2 separate regions of the Homo sapiens genome follow, and region 2 is linked to region 1. The links come from fine-mapping of genetic effects on gene expression. A gene starts in region 1. The other region holds a variant in brackets. All regions are shown on one strand. Distances are between the middles of the regions.

Region 1 (8,328 bases):
TTTTTTTTTTCTGAGACGGAGTCTCACTCTATCGCCCAGGCTGGAGTGCAGTGGCTCGATCTCAGCTCACTGCAAGCTCCGCCTCCTGGGTTCACCCATTCTCCTGCCTCAGCCTCCTGAGTAGCTGGGACTACAGGCGCCCGCCACCACGCCCAGCTAATTTTTTTTGTATTTTTAGTAGAGACCGCGTTTCACCGTGTTAGCCAGGATGGTGTCGATCTCCTGACCTCGTGATCCACCTGCCTCAGCCTCCCAAAATGCTGGGATTACTGGCGTGAGCCACAGCGACCAGCTGACCTCATCTCTTAAAAAAATGATGATTATTATTTTAGAGAGGTGGTCTCACTCTGTCACCTGGGCTGAAGTGCTGTGGCATGATCATAGCTCAATACAGCCTCGAACTCCTGGGCTCAAGTGATCCACCCGCCTCAGGTTCCTGAGTAGCTGGGACTATAGCTGGATGTGCCACCACGCTCGGCTATAAAGAAAAACAATGTTTTTTGAGATGGAGTCTCGCTCTGTCGCCCAGGCTGGAGTGCAATGGCGCGATCTCACCTCACTGCAACCTCTGCCTCCCGGGTTCAAGTGATTCTCCTGTCTCAGCCTCCCGAGTAGCTGGGACTTCAGGCACCTGCCAGCACATCCGGCTAATTTTTTGTATTTTCAGTAGAGATGAGGTTTTGCCATGTTGGCCAGGCTGGTCTCGAACTCCTGACCTCCTGGCCTCCCAAAGTGCTGGGATTACAAGCATGAGCCACTATGCCTGGCCAGAAAAAATTTTTAATTAAAAAAAAATGAGCCTGGCCAATATGGTGAAACCCCGTCTCTACTGAAAATACAAACATTAGCCGGGCGTGGTGGCGGGTGCCTGTAGTCCCAGCTACTCGGGAGGCTGAGGCAGGGATAATCGCTTGAATCCGGGAGGCGGAGATTGCAGTGAGCCGAGATCACGCCACTGCACTCCAGCCTGGGCAACAGAGCAGGAATCCATCTAAAAAAAAAAAAAAGAGAGAGAGAGACTGTGGCCCAATTTTATGCTCTGAGCTAAACTGGGAGTTTGAACACCTGAAGACTGTTAAAAGTTTTACACAAGGTAGCAACACATTCAGATTTGTATACATATATATATATTTTTGAGACAGGATCTCCCTCTGTCACCCAGGCTGGAGTGCAGTGGCATGATTTCGGCTCACTGCAACCTCCGCCTCCTGGGTTCAAGCGATTCTCCTGCCTCATCCTCCTGAGTAGCTGGGATTACAGGCGCCCGCTAACACACCTGGCTAATTTTTGTATTTTTAGTAGAGACCGGGCTTCACCATATTGGTCAGCCCGGTCTCGAACTTCTGACCTCAGGTGATCTGCCAGCCACAGCCTCCCAAAGTGTTGGGATTACAGGCATGAGCCACGGCGCCCGGCCAGATCTGTATTTTAGAAAACTCAGTGGGAGTTGTTTGCAGTGCGATTAGGGGCAGCCAGACGAAAGAGCACCAGCGAGCACGACACTCGTAGGAACACAGTCCAGAGGCAATCATGAGGGCAGTGAGAGTAGGAGATGCCCCTGGCTACAATTTAGTGTTTAGAATTATCTGGGCAGGTGACCCCAAAGCCTCAAAAGAGAAGAGAACTCTGTACTTCACGTGGCTTGGTACACTCTGCTCCCTTTGCTTTGAATGTCCTTCCCCGCCGAGTGCGGTGGCTCACGCCTGTAATCCCAGCACTTTGGGAGGCCGAGGTGGGCGGATCTCAAGGTCAGGAGATCGAGACCAGCCTGGCTAACACGGTGAAACCCCATCTCTACTAAAAATACAAAAAGTTAGCCGGGCGTGGTGGCGGGTGCCTGCAGTCCCAGCAACTCGGGAGGCTGAGGCAGGAGAATGGCGTGAACCCGGGAGGCGGAGCTTGCAGTGAGCCGAGATCACGCCCAGGCACTCCAGCCTGGGCGACAGAGCGAGACTCCATCTCAAAAAAAAAAAAAAAAAAAAAAGAAAGAATGTCCTTCCCCATTTGTCATTCAGCAGTCAACACATGCTGCCTCCTCTGGGAAGCCCTCCTGGATTACTCCATAGACTGGCTGTGGGGGCTCTGCTCTGTGTTCATGTCCGTTTCCCATGATAGCGTTTGTCAGCATTTGTCATCCTTTTGTCATCCAGTTTCCTGGTTCCTCTCACTGGTCTGTGAGTTCGAGGAGTGCAGGGCCCAGCCATGATAACCTTTGCACCCGCAGTGCAAGTGGAGTGTCAACAACAATGTCCTAGGTGAATCAATGAAAATGAGAACGTCAGCTGGTCTGTGGAGAAGCTAGAGGAACGAGCAGAAACGGACCGACGTGGCCGGGCGCGATGTTTCTCGCCTGTAATCCCAGCACTTTGGGAGGCCGAGGCGGGCGGATCACCTGAGGTCAGGAGATTGAGACCATCCTGGCCGACATGGTGAAACCCCCGTCTCTACTAAAAATACAAAAAACAGCCGGGCGCGGTGGCTCACGCCTGTAGTCTCAGCTACTCGGGAGGCTGACGCAGGAGAATCGCTTGAACCCGGGAGCAGTGAGCCGAGATCGCGCCATTGCACTCCAGCGTGGGCGACAGAACAAGACTCCGTCTCAAAAAGAAAAAGAAAAAAGAAACAGACTGATATCGCAGGAAGCCTGGCCGAGAACTCAGGCCCCAGGGCCACACGCATCTTTTCTCCTCCAATTCTGTCTGGGAGTCGCTGCCTAGAAGTCCCAGGTCGTCCAGGAACCGGGGCCCAGACGAGAAGCACCGCTCTGTCCGCAGCGCAGGCGCGCGTCTCTGCGGGAGGCTGCGAGGCCCCGCCCCTCGGGCCCTAGACCCCGCCTCCCATCCCCCGCAGCCCGGGCCCGGGAAGGGCGGCACCGCCCATGAATCCGCATGCGCAGTGCGCGCGCGAGGGCGCCTTGCCCTTCTCCCAATGGCGGGCCGCGGGCCCCTTCCCGGCAGCCTCCCTCGGGCAGGGAGCGCGTCATTTCCGGAGGGGGAGGCCCGCGGCTGCCGCCGCCATTTCGGGCGCTGCTGTGAAGCTGAAACCGGAGCCGGTCCGCTGGGCGGCGGGCGCCGGGGGCCGGAGGGGCGCGCGCGGCGGCGGCACCCCAGCGTTTAGGCGCGGAGGCAGCCATGGCGGGCAACTTCGACTCGGAGGAGCGGAGTAGCTGGTACTGGGGGAGGTTGAGTCGGCAGGAGGCGGTGGCGCTGCTGCAGGGCCAGCGGCACGGGGTGTTCCTGGTGCGGGACTCGAGCACCAGCCCCGGGGACTATGTGCTCAGCGTCTCAGAGAACTCGCGCGTCTCCCACTACATCATCAACAGCAGCGGCCCGCGCCCGCCGGTGCCACCGTCGCCCGCCCAGCCTCCGCCCGGTGAGGGACTGACGGGACGGCGGGCCCTGGGCGGGGTGAGGGCCGCGGAACTCCCAGCCTGGCTGGCTGGTCCTCGAGAGCGGACCCTCGGGGGTCGTGGGCAGAGGGCTGGGTGACCGTGGCAGGGGCCCGCCGGCTGCTCGGGCTCGCTCTCACCCGGGGAGCAGGAGTGTGGGGGAGGAGGAGCCGCGGACCGAGGCCCCGGGGTGTGCCTGGGGAGGGCAGCCGCGGGGAAGGGGAACTGCTTCGGCCCCAGGGTGGGGCTGGCTCCCGGGCCAGGCGCAAGGGTAGGGCAGGGCAAGGCAACGTGGGGACAAAGAGCTGAGGGAGATGTTGGCACTGCGGGGGCATCACTTGGCAGCGGCGCCCAGAATGAATCCGATAATCCTACAAGTGGCTTTTAGGCTGGAAACGTTTCCTGCCGTGTTGGAGAGCCGGGTTTGGCCGTGCTCCCCTGGTGGCCTTTGGTAGGAAGTCACCACATACTGGCCGGGAGGGATGGAGACACCCTCAGGAAACCGGTCAATTTTTTCCTTTCTTGGGCATTTTTCCAAAATCTTTGTACCGTTCTCTTCCCCCGTGGAGGACGAAGGTGGTGAACTAAGTGCTAGAAGAAATAGTGGTAGCAGAAAGCCTTCAGTGACCAGCCCAACCCAGTTTAAGGCGATGCCTGGCTATGTGCAAGAGATCTAAGCGTCCAGAAGACTGTCCGCCGTTAGAGAGTTCTGGTTTTCAAAGTGTTTAGTGGAGGAAAGACATTTTATTCCACAAAATAAACCAGAAGTGAGGCAATGGAAACAGACCCTTCCCTGTAAGTGACTGGAACTTCATTTTCCTTGGACTTAAACATTGTCGGTGTGTACTTCAGGGCGTCACCTTGCTCAGTAAGATGGGGCTGCGGGCTGAGTCTTCCTGGATATTGGGAACAGACTCTACGCCAAGAACATAAATTACCTGCGCTGGGTTTTCCTTGCCAGGGAGGGATCCCTGAGATTGACTGTCTTACCGATGCCGTTGGAGTTGATTTGGGACTGTTTTAAGGGAATAGATAGATGCCCTTAGTACTGGAGATTTGTGAGGTACAAAGTAATTCTGGGGTTCTCATTGTATGTGTACCTGTGTAACAGCATCAGGAGTCCTCGTGCCTTCACGCTGTTGCCAAGTCGAAGCAGTTTCTTCTTGGCCAGCTGAGAATGGGTTCAGACTAGTCTCATATGAATCAGGAAGCTCTTGAGCCGTCCTTTGTAGACTTGCCCTTGTAGAATAGTTCTAATTTAGATTTACTCGCTCCGGCCAGAAATAGAGAATTGGATAGGCAGTCTCTTTGTTAACACACACCAATTTTTATTTTACTCTTTTCTAAGACGGAGTCTTGCTCTGTCACCCACGCTGGAGCACAGTGGCGCAATCTCGGCTCACGGCGATTCTCCTGTCTCAGTCTCCCAAGTAGCTGGGATTACAGGCACCCGCCACCATAACCAGCTAATGTTGTATTTTTCGTAGAGACGAAGTTTCACCAGGTTGGCCAGGCTGGTCTCGAACTCCTGACCTCAGGTGATCCACCAGCCTCGGCCTCCCAAAGTGCTGGGATTACAGGCAAGAGCCACCGCGCCTGGCCAACACATACTAATTTTTTTAAAATTTTTCTTATTTATTTCTTACTTATTTATTTATTTTGAGACGGAGTCTCTCTGTCGCCCAGGCTGGAGTGCAGTGGCGCGATCTTGGCTCACTGCAACCTTTGCCTTTTGGGTTCAAGTGATTCTGCCTCAGCCTCCTGAGTAGCTGGGATTGCTGGTGTGCATCACCACCACGCCCAGCTAATTTTTTGTATTTTTAGTAGAGATGGGGTTTTACCAGGTTGGCCAGATTGGTCTTGAACTCCTGATCTCAGGTGATCCACTCGCCTTTGCCTCCCAAAATGCTGGGATTACAGGCGTGGGCCACCGCACCCAGCTTTGTTTGTTTGAGGCGGAGTTTCGCTTTTGTTGCCCAGGCTGGAGTGCGATGGTGCAATCTCAGCTCACTGCAATCTCTACCTCCCCGGGTTCAAAGGATTCTCCTGTCTCAGCCTCCCTAGTAGCTGGGATTACAGGCACACTCCACTACGCCTGGCTAGTTTTTGTATTTTTAGTAGGGTTGGGGTTTCGCCAAGTTGACCAGGCTGGTCTCGAACTCCTGACCTCAGGTGATCTGCCCACCTCAGACTCCCAAAGTGTTGGGATTACAGGCGTGAGCCACCACACCCAGTCTAACACAACCATTTTTTAAAAATGAGTATGGGGTCTATAAGCTCACAAATTATCCTAGATCTTTCTCATTGTGGCCTGTTTAATAGTATTATGAGATGGGAATATTGATGTACCTGTGTTGGCCCTGAACCAGATATATTCTACTTTGATGCCACCTGCATAGTATCTGGGGTTTTGCATTATATGTCGTCACATGATGGCAAACTGTCATTGAAACTCACTTTTCAGCCTTTTGTTTGTGTTTGTTGGTTGCCAAAGTTGAAAATGGCAGCAGGCAGGTTTGTTAGTTTGATATTTTTTCATATCTTAGCATAACGATTTTATGTCTCAACACTTACCGTGATAATCGAGCACCACCTTTTCAAAACAGATAAGAACTCAGTTCCTTGGCTGAGGAAAGACGGTGAAGATTGCCAAAGTTTATGGATGGGGTGTGGAAAATTCACGAGTATTGTGATAATTCTTTCTGCCATGTTGTACCCCATTTTCTACGATTCAGTTGCTGTCTTTTTCTCTCTTCTGAGACAGAGCCTCTGTCACCCAAGCTGGAGTGCAGTGGCATGAACACAGCTCACTGCAGCCTTGACCTCCTGGGCTCAAGCCATCCTCCCACTTCATCCTCCTGAGTAGCTGGGACTCCAGGCGTATCCACCATGCCTGGTTAACTGTTGAAAATTTTTTTGTAGAGATGAGGGGTCTCACGGTATTGTCCAGGCTGGTCTCAAATTCCTGATCTCAATAGACTTCATGCTTCAGGCTCCCAAAGTTTTGGAACTGCAGGTGTGAGCCACTGTGCCTGGTCAGTTGCTGTCTTTTTTTTTTTTTTTCTTTTTGAGACCGAGTTTTTACTCTTGTCTCCCACGCTGGAGCGCAATGGCGCGATATTGGCCCACTGCAACCTCTGCCTTCTAGGTTTAATCAATTCTCCTGCCTCAGCCTCCTGAGTAGCTGGAATTACAGGCGCCCACCACCATGCTCAGCTAATTTTTGTATTTTTTTAGTAGAGATGGGGTTTCACCATGTTGGCCAGGCTGGTCTCGAACTGCTGAACTCTGATCATCCACCCACCTCGGCCTCCCAAAGTGCTGGGATTACAGACGTGAGCCACCAGCGCCTGGCCTGTCTGTATAACCTCAGAATTACTTTGTACCTCACAAATCTCAAGTACTAAGTACTGAATCTTTGTTCTCCCCCTCACCAAGTCCTTTTGAAGTCACACAGAGAAATTTCTTGAATTTTTTAGAGAGGCGTATAGAATATTAATAACTAATGTTTATTGACTGGTTATTCTGTGCCAGGTACTTTGAGTACTTTATGTACCTTATTTCACTTACTGTCTAGGACAATCTAGTGAGATAAGTAATATGATCTCCATTTATTAAAATATTCCCATTTTATACAGGAGGAAACACTCATAGATTCAGTAACTTGCTTAAGGTCACACAACTAATAAATGACTTTCAGAAGTTGAACCTAGGCATTCTGACCTGAGAGCTGACCCTTTTACACTACACTCTCAAAGCCAGCGTTCTTTTGGCATCTCAGCAGTGCACATAGAGGTCCGTATCCTCAATATCCTCAATACTTTGCCTCTGCCCTGGAGTCTAAGACTTGGTGTTTTTTGTTTTGTTGTTTTTGGATGGAGTTTCGCTCTTGCCCCCCGGGCTGCTACAGTGCAGTGGTGCAGTCTCGGCTCACTGAAACCTCTGCTTCCCAGGTTCAAGTGATTCTCCTGCCTCAGCCTCCCGAGTAGCTGGGATTACAGGCATGTGCCACTGTGCCCAGCTAATTTTTTTTTTTGTATTTTTAGTAGACACGGGGTTTCACCATGTTGGCCAGGCTGGTCTCGAACTCCTGACCTCAGGTGATCCGCCCACCTCGGCCTTGTGTTTTTTGTTTTTTTTTCCCCCCACTATGTTGCCCAAACTGGAGTGCAGTGGCTGTTGACAGGCACAGTCATAGTGCACTACAGCCCTTAACTTTGGGGCAGGCAGCCCTTCTGACTCAGGCTGTGAGTAGCTGGGACTACAGGCACATACAGCCGCATCCAGCCCAGGTTTTTTAAAGACCAGAATTAAAGAATGGCAAGAAGAGGCCGGGCGCAGTGGCTCATGCCTGTAATTCCAGCACTTTGAGAGGCCAAGGAGGGTGGATCACTTGAGGTCAAGAGTTCGAGACCAGCCTGGCCAACATGGTGAAACCTTGTTTCTACTAAAAAATACAAAAATTAGCTGGGCGTGGTGGCGGACGCCTGTAATCCTAGCTGCTGGAGAGGCTAAGGCACGAGAATCGCTTGAACCCCGGAGGCAGAGGTTGCAGTGAGCTGAGATCGTGCCACTGGCTTTATTATTCAGACAATACACATCTGCTATCTAAAGTCAATGATGAAGAAGCTTTTTAAAATTGTTATTGCTTTTTTTTTTTTTTTTTTTGAGACAGTTTCTCGCTCTGTCACCGAGGCTGGAGTATAGTGGCACGACCTCGGCTCACTGCAAGCTCCGCCCCGTGGGGTTCATGCCATTCTCCTACCTCAGCCTCCCGAGTAGCTGGGACTACAGGCGCCCGCCACCACGCCCGGCTAATTTTTTGTATTTTTAGTGGAGATGGGGTTTCACCGTGTTAGCCAGGATGGTCTCGATCTCCTGACCTTGTGATCTGCCTGCCTCGGCCTCCTAAAGTGCTGGGATTACAGGTGTGAGCCACC
Region 2 (8,328 bases), 35 kb after region 1:
CCGATGGTGGGATTTGGGGGCTGGGCAGGCAGTGGCTTGTGAAGTAGAGCTTACTGAATGAGGTGGGGGTTTTCTGGGAGCTAATTGGACCTGGAGTTTTGGCCTCTACCTGCCCATATGGGAAAAGGCTTGCCTGGGTCAGGAGGTGATAGGAACACTTGATTCTCTAGGACCAAGTGACCTATGCTTGCCATGATCGCTTTCTGCTGTGCAAGCAGTAACAGGCCAGGTCTTGTGCGAGTGGGCTGGGGGATTGTGCTGCTGCCATATGCTAAAGCGGGGAGAAGGCGGCCAGGCACAGTGGCTCACGCCTGTAATCCAAGCACTTTGGGAGGCCAAGGCAGGTGGATCACAAGGTCAGGAGTTCGAGACCAGCCTGGCCAAGATGGTGAAACTCCATCTCTACTAAAAATACAAAAATTAGCTGGGCACGGTGGCAGGCGCCTGTAGTCCCAGCTACTCGGGAGGCTGTGGCAGGAAAATTGCTCGAACCTGGGAGGCAGAGCTTGCAGTGAGCTGAGATCACGCCACTGTCATCCAGCCTGGGTGACAGAGACTCCGTCTCAAAAAAAAAAAAAAAAAAAAACGGAGAAAGCTGCTTCTCCTCGGACAGGGCCTGCGGAGCAGGCAGAAAGCTGAGGGTAGTGAGTACAAAGAAAGGGAATAGTAGCTAACTCACTGAAGTTGGGATTGCTCATGCAGAGACAGCTGAGATTTCCAATAATTATCACTTTCCTTTTTTAATCAAAAAGTATCATTATCTGGAATCCCTTTTACTTTCTGTATTCTCTGTTTTTCCACACTGCTAAAAACACTTTTCCTTCTGCCTGCATTAACCACAAGTAATCAGTCTGGTGGCTGGGGCTGGGGAGGCAGCAAATGGCCATTTCTGTAATATCCCTAGAGCAGTCACATGGGCAGGGTGTGCCTAACCAGAGAATGGAGTTGTTCAGCTTGCATTCCTACCTGGAAATAAAGTGCTCTCCTTATTCTCCTCCTGCAGGTCGGTGAGCTGGTAAAGGTTACGAAGATTAATGTGAGTGGTCAGTGGGAAGGGGAGTGTAATGGCAAACGAGGTCACTTCCCATTCACACATGTCCGTCTGCTGGATCAACAGAATCCCGATGAGGACTTCAGCTGAGTATAGTTCAACAGTTTTGCTGACAGATGGGAACAATCTTTTTTTTTTTTTTCCAACTGCCATCTATACAATTTTCTTACAGATGTCAAAAGCAGTCTAGTTTATATAAGCATTCTGTTACCTGTGATATTTTTTAGACTGAACTGCTCCATTCCTAGTCTTAATTACCATATTCAGGGTACGAACTGGAGGGCTTGTGTGTTAGCTTCTGAATTGGCAATTGGAGGCGGTAGTGGTCGTGCCTGTGTGTATCAGAAGGGATAGGTATCTTGCCTCCTTTCTCTCAGGCAGTGCAAATCACCCTGTGGAAAACCGATGGACAGGAAGGAGTGTTACACACTGCTTACCCTGATTTATTCAGTGGTTTTGTTTTCATTCTGGAACCATACTATCAAATGGCGACAGACTGTTCCGTTCCACCCCCGTGAAGTAATCATGCACCGTGTGAATAGTATCAAGCAGGATTGCTTTCATTGTATGGAGCATGACCAGCGTGTGACTCATTCTGACATTTCAGATCCTAAGAATTCTAAGAACACTACTAGAAGCATTTGTTCCCTCCTAGTCAATGCTTCATACTTTTTCTTGGGATTCTTTTAGCCCTTGACATTCTTGTCCCCCAAACCTGTAAGTAGGTGAATTCCTAAGATAAGTGTGTATTTTCATTCCAGGTGAAAAGCAGGATGTACCGAGCACTTTATTCAGTGCATAGCTTTAAGCCAGTGTTGGATTCACTAAGTGGACAGCCAGTCTCCCAGCTCTCTGCCTTCCCCAAAAGGGTCGTAGTAGGTCACCCTTCTACAGCAGCTAACTAGAGTCCTAACTAATGGGATCCAGCAGGGCCATTTCTCCAGAGGGCCAGTATCCTATTAGGAGACTCTTGGAATTCTTAGGTTCTACTCAAGAGTGGAAGGACCAATCACCTCTGATATTCTGTGGAAGGTTTTGGGGTCAAATTCTGCCCTCTGCATTCTGTGCAACTTGTATAAAAGTCAAGTTAGTATTACATGAATTTGGGGTAGGGTTAGTGCTTTGAAAAAATGTTGAACCGGCTGGGCGCGGTGGCTCACGTCTGTAATCCCAGCACTTTGGGAGGCCGAGGCGGGTGGATCATGAGGTCAGGAGTTCGAGACCAGCCTGGCCAACATAGTGAAACCCCATCTCTGCTAAAGATATAAAAAATTAGCCCGGCGTGGTGGTGCACGCCTGTAATCCCAGCTACTCGGGAGGCTGAGGCAGGAGAATTGCTTCAACCTGGGAGGTGGAGGCTGCAGTGAGCCGAGATCGCACCACTGCGTTCCAGCCTGAGCGACAGGGCAAGACTCAGTCTCAAAAAAAAAAAAAAGGAAAAAAAAAAGAAAAAAAAATGTTGAACCAATTGTGAATTACTTATGTATTATTCATTTCTCATGGGGAGAGTAATGCTGTTGAAGAACATTACATTGTAAACTGCCTTCATTTTTGGCTCTTTGTTTATGTTCAGGTTTAGTTTACAAACCCATTTAAGTATGGAATGATTTATATGGGGTCAGGTGCTCCACAAAATAGACCTATGAGACCAAAAATGACCTAGGCTATTTAGACGACAGCATGAAACTTCCACGTTAGTTCTCAGTCTATAAAGGCACTTACCGGTCTCTGGTGTGGTATGACCAATAGAAACACCTTATAGTTTGCTTTGGACCTCATTTTGGAAAAATAATCTGCCTTTCTAATTGTTCTGCATAGGTTAAAATGATAAATTTACATTCTTTGAACCTATACCAGATTGTGGTGTCCGAGTGACCGGCACACTGTCTGACACACAGTCAGTGTGCACGTATTTGTCTGAGTGAATGAGGAGACCTGAGAAACCGGTGACGTGGCACAGGGAAGCCAGCTGGCCCAGGATTCCGTACATGGCCGCAAGCAGACTAACGCGTTGACGCTAATTTAATGTATTTTACCTCACACTAAGGTCATGCTTGATAAAGACGTTAAACTCAACTTGTAAAATGGTAGCCCAGTGCTATGCACAGAGTGGGTGCTCATTAGTGTTGAATGAACACATTTGTAATACTACATGTAATTCCATCTGACTGCTTTGTTAAATTTTCAGTTAGAACGTAGATACTGTAAAGTCCACACACACATTAAATCTTGTTTTCCTGAAAGTATGGCATCAAAAATACTTGTAGAAAAACCTTGTCACAACTGATTTGAATGTTCCTATTTTCTTT[TCCTTTG/G]ACTTTGATATTGGCTTGTAATGTCTCTTTTCATCATATGTAATATCAGTGGAACAGGCAGCGCTACTCAAGTCCTAAGGATTCCTCAGTGATCAGTGATCCAGGGCCGTTCATGAACCACTGGGCTGGATTTGACTGTTGAGTGTGGCAGTTAATGCCCCTCAAGAAATCAAAGGATGTCTTATAAGTGTCTTCCAAAAAAAAGCAAATGCTGAAATCCTATTGGCAAAGTAAACTGAAATTGGCTGCTATATTTTATATAATCATTTCTGCAAATCCCATTTTTTGAATACTAATATTTGACATGGTTAATTCTTATTAATTTGTTGGAATTGTTTATTGTTAATAATGCAAATAGATAATTTTTAATTATCCACAAGTAACATTTCACTGTTAATGGTTTGAAATAGGTGATAAGCAAACCAATTTGAAATAAAATATAAACATGTGCCATTGTATTATAACACTATACACTTTCTTGACAGTTAAATTTAAAAAAAAATTTTTTTTGGTAGCATGTATTGTATATGTTTATAGTATATGTAGTAAATAAAAATATGGCCAAATGTTTGGCTTGGTGATCTTTTGCAAAAAAGTAATCTTTGAATATTTTTCACAAAAGAACTAAATCTTTTTTTTTTTTTGAGACAGAGTTTCGCTCTTGTGACCTAAGCTGGGGTGCAGTGATGCGATCTCGGCTCACTGCAACTTCCGCCTCCCACGTTCAAGCAATTCTCCTACCTCTGCCTCCCGAGTAGCTGGGGTTACAGGCATGCACCACCACGCCCAGCTAATTTACTGTATTTTTAGTAGAAATGGGGTTTCACCATGTTAGCCAGGCTGGTCTCAAATTCCTGACCTCGGGTGATCCGCCTGCCTCCGCCTCCTAAAGTGCTGGGATTACAGGCTTCAGCCACCACCGCACCCAGCGAGAGGTAAATCTTTATGCTTAGGGGATAGGAGGTATGTGCCTTCAGCAGCCTGCAGTCATATAATTAGATAAACAATTATACAAGCTCAGTGGGTGCTTATTAAAGATGGGATTAGGCCGGGTGTGGTGGCTCATGCCTGTAATCCCAGCACCTTGGGAGGCAGAGGCGAGCGGATCAGAAGGTCAGGAGTTCGAGACCAGCCTGGCCAACATAGTGAAACTCCGTCTCTACTAAAAATACTAAAATCTGGCTGGGCATGATGGCTCACGCCTGTAATCCCAGCACTTTAGGAGGCTGAGGTGGGTGGATCACAAAGTCAGGAGATCGAGACCATCCTGGCTAACATGGTGAAACCCGGTCTCCACTAAAAATACGAAAAATTAGCCGGGCGTGGTGGCACGCGCCTGTAGTCCCAGCTGCACGGGAGGCTGAGGCAGGAGAATCGCTTGAACCCGGGAGGCAGAGCTTGCAGTGATCCAAGATGGCACCACCGTACTCCAGCCTGGGCAACAGAGCGAGACTCTGTCTCAATTAATCAATCAATAAAATACAAAAATTAGCCAGGCGTTGTGGCGTGCACCTATAGTCCCAGCTACTCGGGAGGCTGAGGCAGATGAATTACTTGAACCTGTGAAGTGGAGATTGTAGTTAGCCGAGATCACGCCACTGCACTCCAGCCTGGGTGACAGAGCAAGACTCCATCTCAGGGAAAAAAAAAAAAAAGATGGGATTAATCAATGGTGATATATATAGACACAGATTTTTTTTTAATTATTTATTTATTTATTTTTGTTGAGATGGAGTTTCGCTCTTGTTGCCCAGGCTGGAGTGTAGTGCTGCGTTCTTGGCTCACTGCAACCTCCACCTCCTGGGTTCAAGCAATTCTCCTGCCTCAGCCTCCCGAGTAGCTGGGATTACAGGCATGCGCCACCATGCCCGGCTAATTTTGAATTTTTAGTAGAAACGGGATTTCTCCATGTTGGTCAGGCTGGTCTGGAACTCCCAACCTCAGGTGATCCGCCTGCCTCAGCCTCCCAAAGTGCTAGGATTACAGGGATGAGCCACCGTATCCGGCCTTTTTTTTTTTTTTTTTTTTTGGCGGGGCGCAGGGTGGGGGGCGGGGACGGAGTTTCACTCTTGTTGTGCAGGCTGGAGTATAGTGGCGCTATCTCAGCTCGTTGTAACCTCTGTCTCCTGTGTTCAAGCGATTCTCCTGCCTCAGCCTCCCGAGTAGCTGGGATTACAGGCACGTGCCACCATACCTGGCTAATTTTTGTATTTTTAGTAGAGATGGGGTTTCACCATTTTGGCCAGGCTGGTCTCAAACCTCCTGACCGCAGGTGATCCACTTTGGCCCCCCAAAGTACTGGGATTACAGGCGTGAGCCACCGCGCCTGGCCTCGTGATTTTTTTTTTTTTCAAGACAAAATTTTCCTCTTGTGCCCCAGGCTGGAGGGCAGTGGCGTGATCTCAGCTTACTCCAACCTTGCCTCCCGGGTATAAGCGATTCTCCTGCCTCAGCCTCCCGAATAGCTGGGATTACAGGTGCACGCCACCAGGCCCTGCTAATTTTTGTATTTTTAGTAGAGATGGTGTTTCACCATGTTGGCTAGGCTGGTCTTGAACTCTTGACCTCAGGTGATCCACCCGCCTCGGCCTCCCAGTGTGCTGGAATTACAGGCGTGAGCCACTGCGCCCGGCCTCTGGCCTGGTGATATTTTTAAAGGTCTCCATGAGTATGAGTCATAAAATACTGATTTGAGGGGACCATAAGAATCATATAAAGGCCTGAAAGCAGGCCAGGTACAGTGGCTTATGCCTGTAATCCTCGCACTTGGGAGGCCTAGGTGGTGGAATCATTTGAGATCAGGAGTTTGAAACCAGCCTGGCCCACGTGGTGAAACACTGTCTCTACTAAAAATACAAAAAAAAATTAGCTGGGTGTGGTGGTGTGCGCCTGTAATCCCAGCCACTTAGGCCGCTGAGGCAGAAGAGTTGCTTGAACCCAAGAGGCTGACGGTGCAGTGAGATTGTGCCACTTCACTCCAGCCTGAGCGACAGGGTAAGACCCTGTCTGAAACAAAACCCAAAACCAAAAAAAACCCTGTTGAATGGCGTGTTCTTTTATATAGTCTACAGTATTCATACCAGCTGTCGTATTTTATGACCTGGACTTCCAGGTTAAATTCTGTTCCTCTTACAGGTATGAAAAGATGAGAGGGGGCCGGTATAGAAGAAAATGTGAAAATAACCATTAACCCTGCTAAGTTTGACAGGGAGAGGCGGAGAAAGTGGCGTGCTGTTGCCACCCATGTTCTGAAGACTGTGAAATGGGAGATAAGGTAGAGGCAAAAAAGAACCTTTAGCCATCTAGAAGTGAAGCTCAAAAACAGAGCAGGCCGGGCGCGGTGGCTCACGCCTCATCCCAGAACTGTGGGAGCCCGAGGCGGGTGGATTATGAGGTCAGGAGATCGAGACCATCCTGGCTAACACGGTGAAACCCCATCTCTACTAAAAATACAAAAAACTAGCCAGGTGTAGTGGCGGACGCCTGAGTCCCAGCTACTCCGGAGGCCGAGGCAGAGTGGCTTGAACCTGGGAGACGGAGTTTGCAGTGAGCCGAGACCACGCCACTGCACTCCAGCCTGGACGTCAGAGTGAGACTCCATCTCAAAAAAAAAAAAAAAAAAGCCAGGTGTGGTGGCAGGTGCCTTTAATCCCAGCTACTCGGGAAGCTGAGGCAGGAGAATCACTTCAACCGGGGAGGCAGAGGTTGCAGTAAGCTGAGATCGCACCATTGCACTCCGGCCTGGGCAACAGAGCGATACTGTCTCAAAAATAAATAAATAATATAAAATTAGCCGGGCATGGTGGGGGATGCCTGTAATCTCAGCTACTCAGGAGGCTGAGGTGGGAGACTCTCTTGAACCTGGGAGGCAGAGGTTGCAGTGAACCAAGACCACACCACTACACTCCAGCCTGGGCGACAGAACCAGACTCCGTTTCAAAAAGCAAACACGCAAAAAATCTATGATACTTAGAAAAAAGGAATGAATGTGATGAGTGTTGTTTTTTTTTTTTTTTTTTTGAGGTGGAGTTTTGCTCTGTTGTCCAGCCTGGAGTGCAATGGTGCCATCTCAGCTCACCACAACCTCCACCTCCCAGGTTAAAGCGATTCTTCTGCCTCAGCGTCCCAAGTAGCTGGGATTCCAGTGCGTGCCACCACGTCCGGCTAATTTTTTGTATTTTTAGTAGAGATGGGGTTTCACCATGTTGGCCAGGCTGGTCTTGAACTCCTGACCTTGTGATCTGCCCACCTCAGCCTCCCAAAGTGCTGGGATTACAGGCGTGAGCCACCATGCCCGGCCCTTTGTTTGTTTCTTTTGAGAGACAAAACTCACTGTTGCCCAGGCTGGGATGCAACAGTGCAACCCGGACTCAGCGCAGCCTGGACCTCCGGGACTCAAGCAATCTGCCCACCTATGCCTCCAAAATAGCTGGGACGACAGTTGCGCACCACCACACCTGGCTAGTTTGTTAATTTTTGGTAGAGATGAGGGTTTTGCTATGGCTGCTCTTGAACTCCTAGGCTCAAGTAATCCTCCTGCCTCAACCTCCCAAAATGCTGGGATTATCTGTGTGAGCTGCCATTCCCGGCTGAATGTGATTTTTTTTGTTTTTTGTTTGTTTGAGATGGGGTCTCACTCTGTTGCCCAGGCTGGAGTGCAGTGGCGTGATCTCAGCTCACAGAAACCTCCGCCTCCTGGACTCAAGCGATCCTCCCACCTCTCAGCCTTCCAGGCAGCTGGGACTACAGGCGCACACCACCATCCCCAGCTAATTTTTGAGGTTTTTTAAAATTACTATTTTTTAAGAGATGGGGTGTTGCTATGTAGCCCAGGCTGGTCTCAAAGGATCCACCTGCCTTGGCCTCCAAACATGCTGGGATTACAGGCCTGAGCCACCACGCCTGGCCAAAGTGAGGTTCTTGATCGTATTTTCTTTTTTTCTTTTCTTTTTTTTTTTTTCC

Alleles and levels. Positions count from the first base shown, and alleles are read on the strand shown. Sizes are in standard deviations (SD) of each study's normalised expression.
With allele TCCTTTG in place of G in region 2, the expression in tibial nerve of the gene that starts at base 3,017 in region 1 is higher (small effect, 0.24 SD a copy in GTEx).

Evidence for each region.
Region 2: its variant is fine-mapped to the expression of CRK in tibial nerve (GTEx, PIP 0.98). The same link has a PIP of 0.9 or more in esophagus mucosa, subcutaneous fat and sun-exposed skin.

Annotation. Positions count from the first base shown.
Region 1 is chr17:1,450,921-1,459,248 of GRCh38, reverse strand. It overlaps CRK (CRK proto-oncogene, adaptor protein), which reads left to right and starts at 3,017. Exons shown (of 3, transcript NM_016823.4): 1 at 3,017-3,372. The coding sequence starts at 3,132. RefSeq lists silencers at 2,709-3,208, 3,299-3,358, 3,469-3,598 and enhancers at 2,863-3,848, 4,983-5,484.
Region 2 is chr17:1,416,326-1,424,653 of GRCh38, reverse strand. It overlaps CRK (CRK proto-oncogene, adaptor protein), which reads left to right. Exons shown (of 3, transcript NM_016823.4): 3 at 1,004-3,961. The coding sequence ends at 1,141. It overlaps CRK-AS1 (CRK antisense RNA 1), which reads right to left and starts at 68. Exons shown (of 1, transcript NR_198965.1): 1 at 1-68. The variant TCCTTTG/G (reference allele first, on the strand shown) is at 3,361.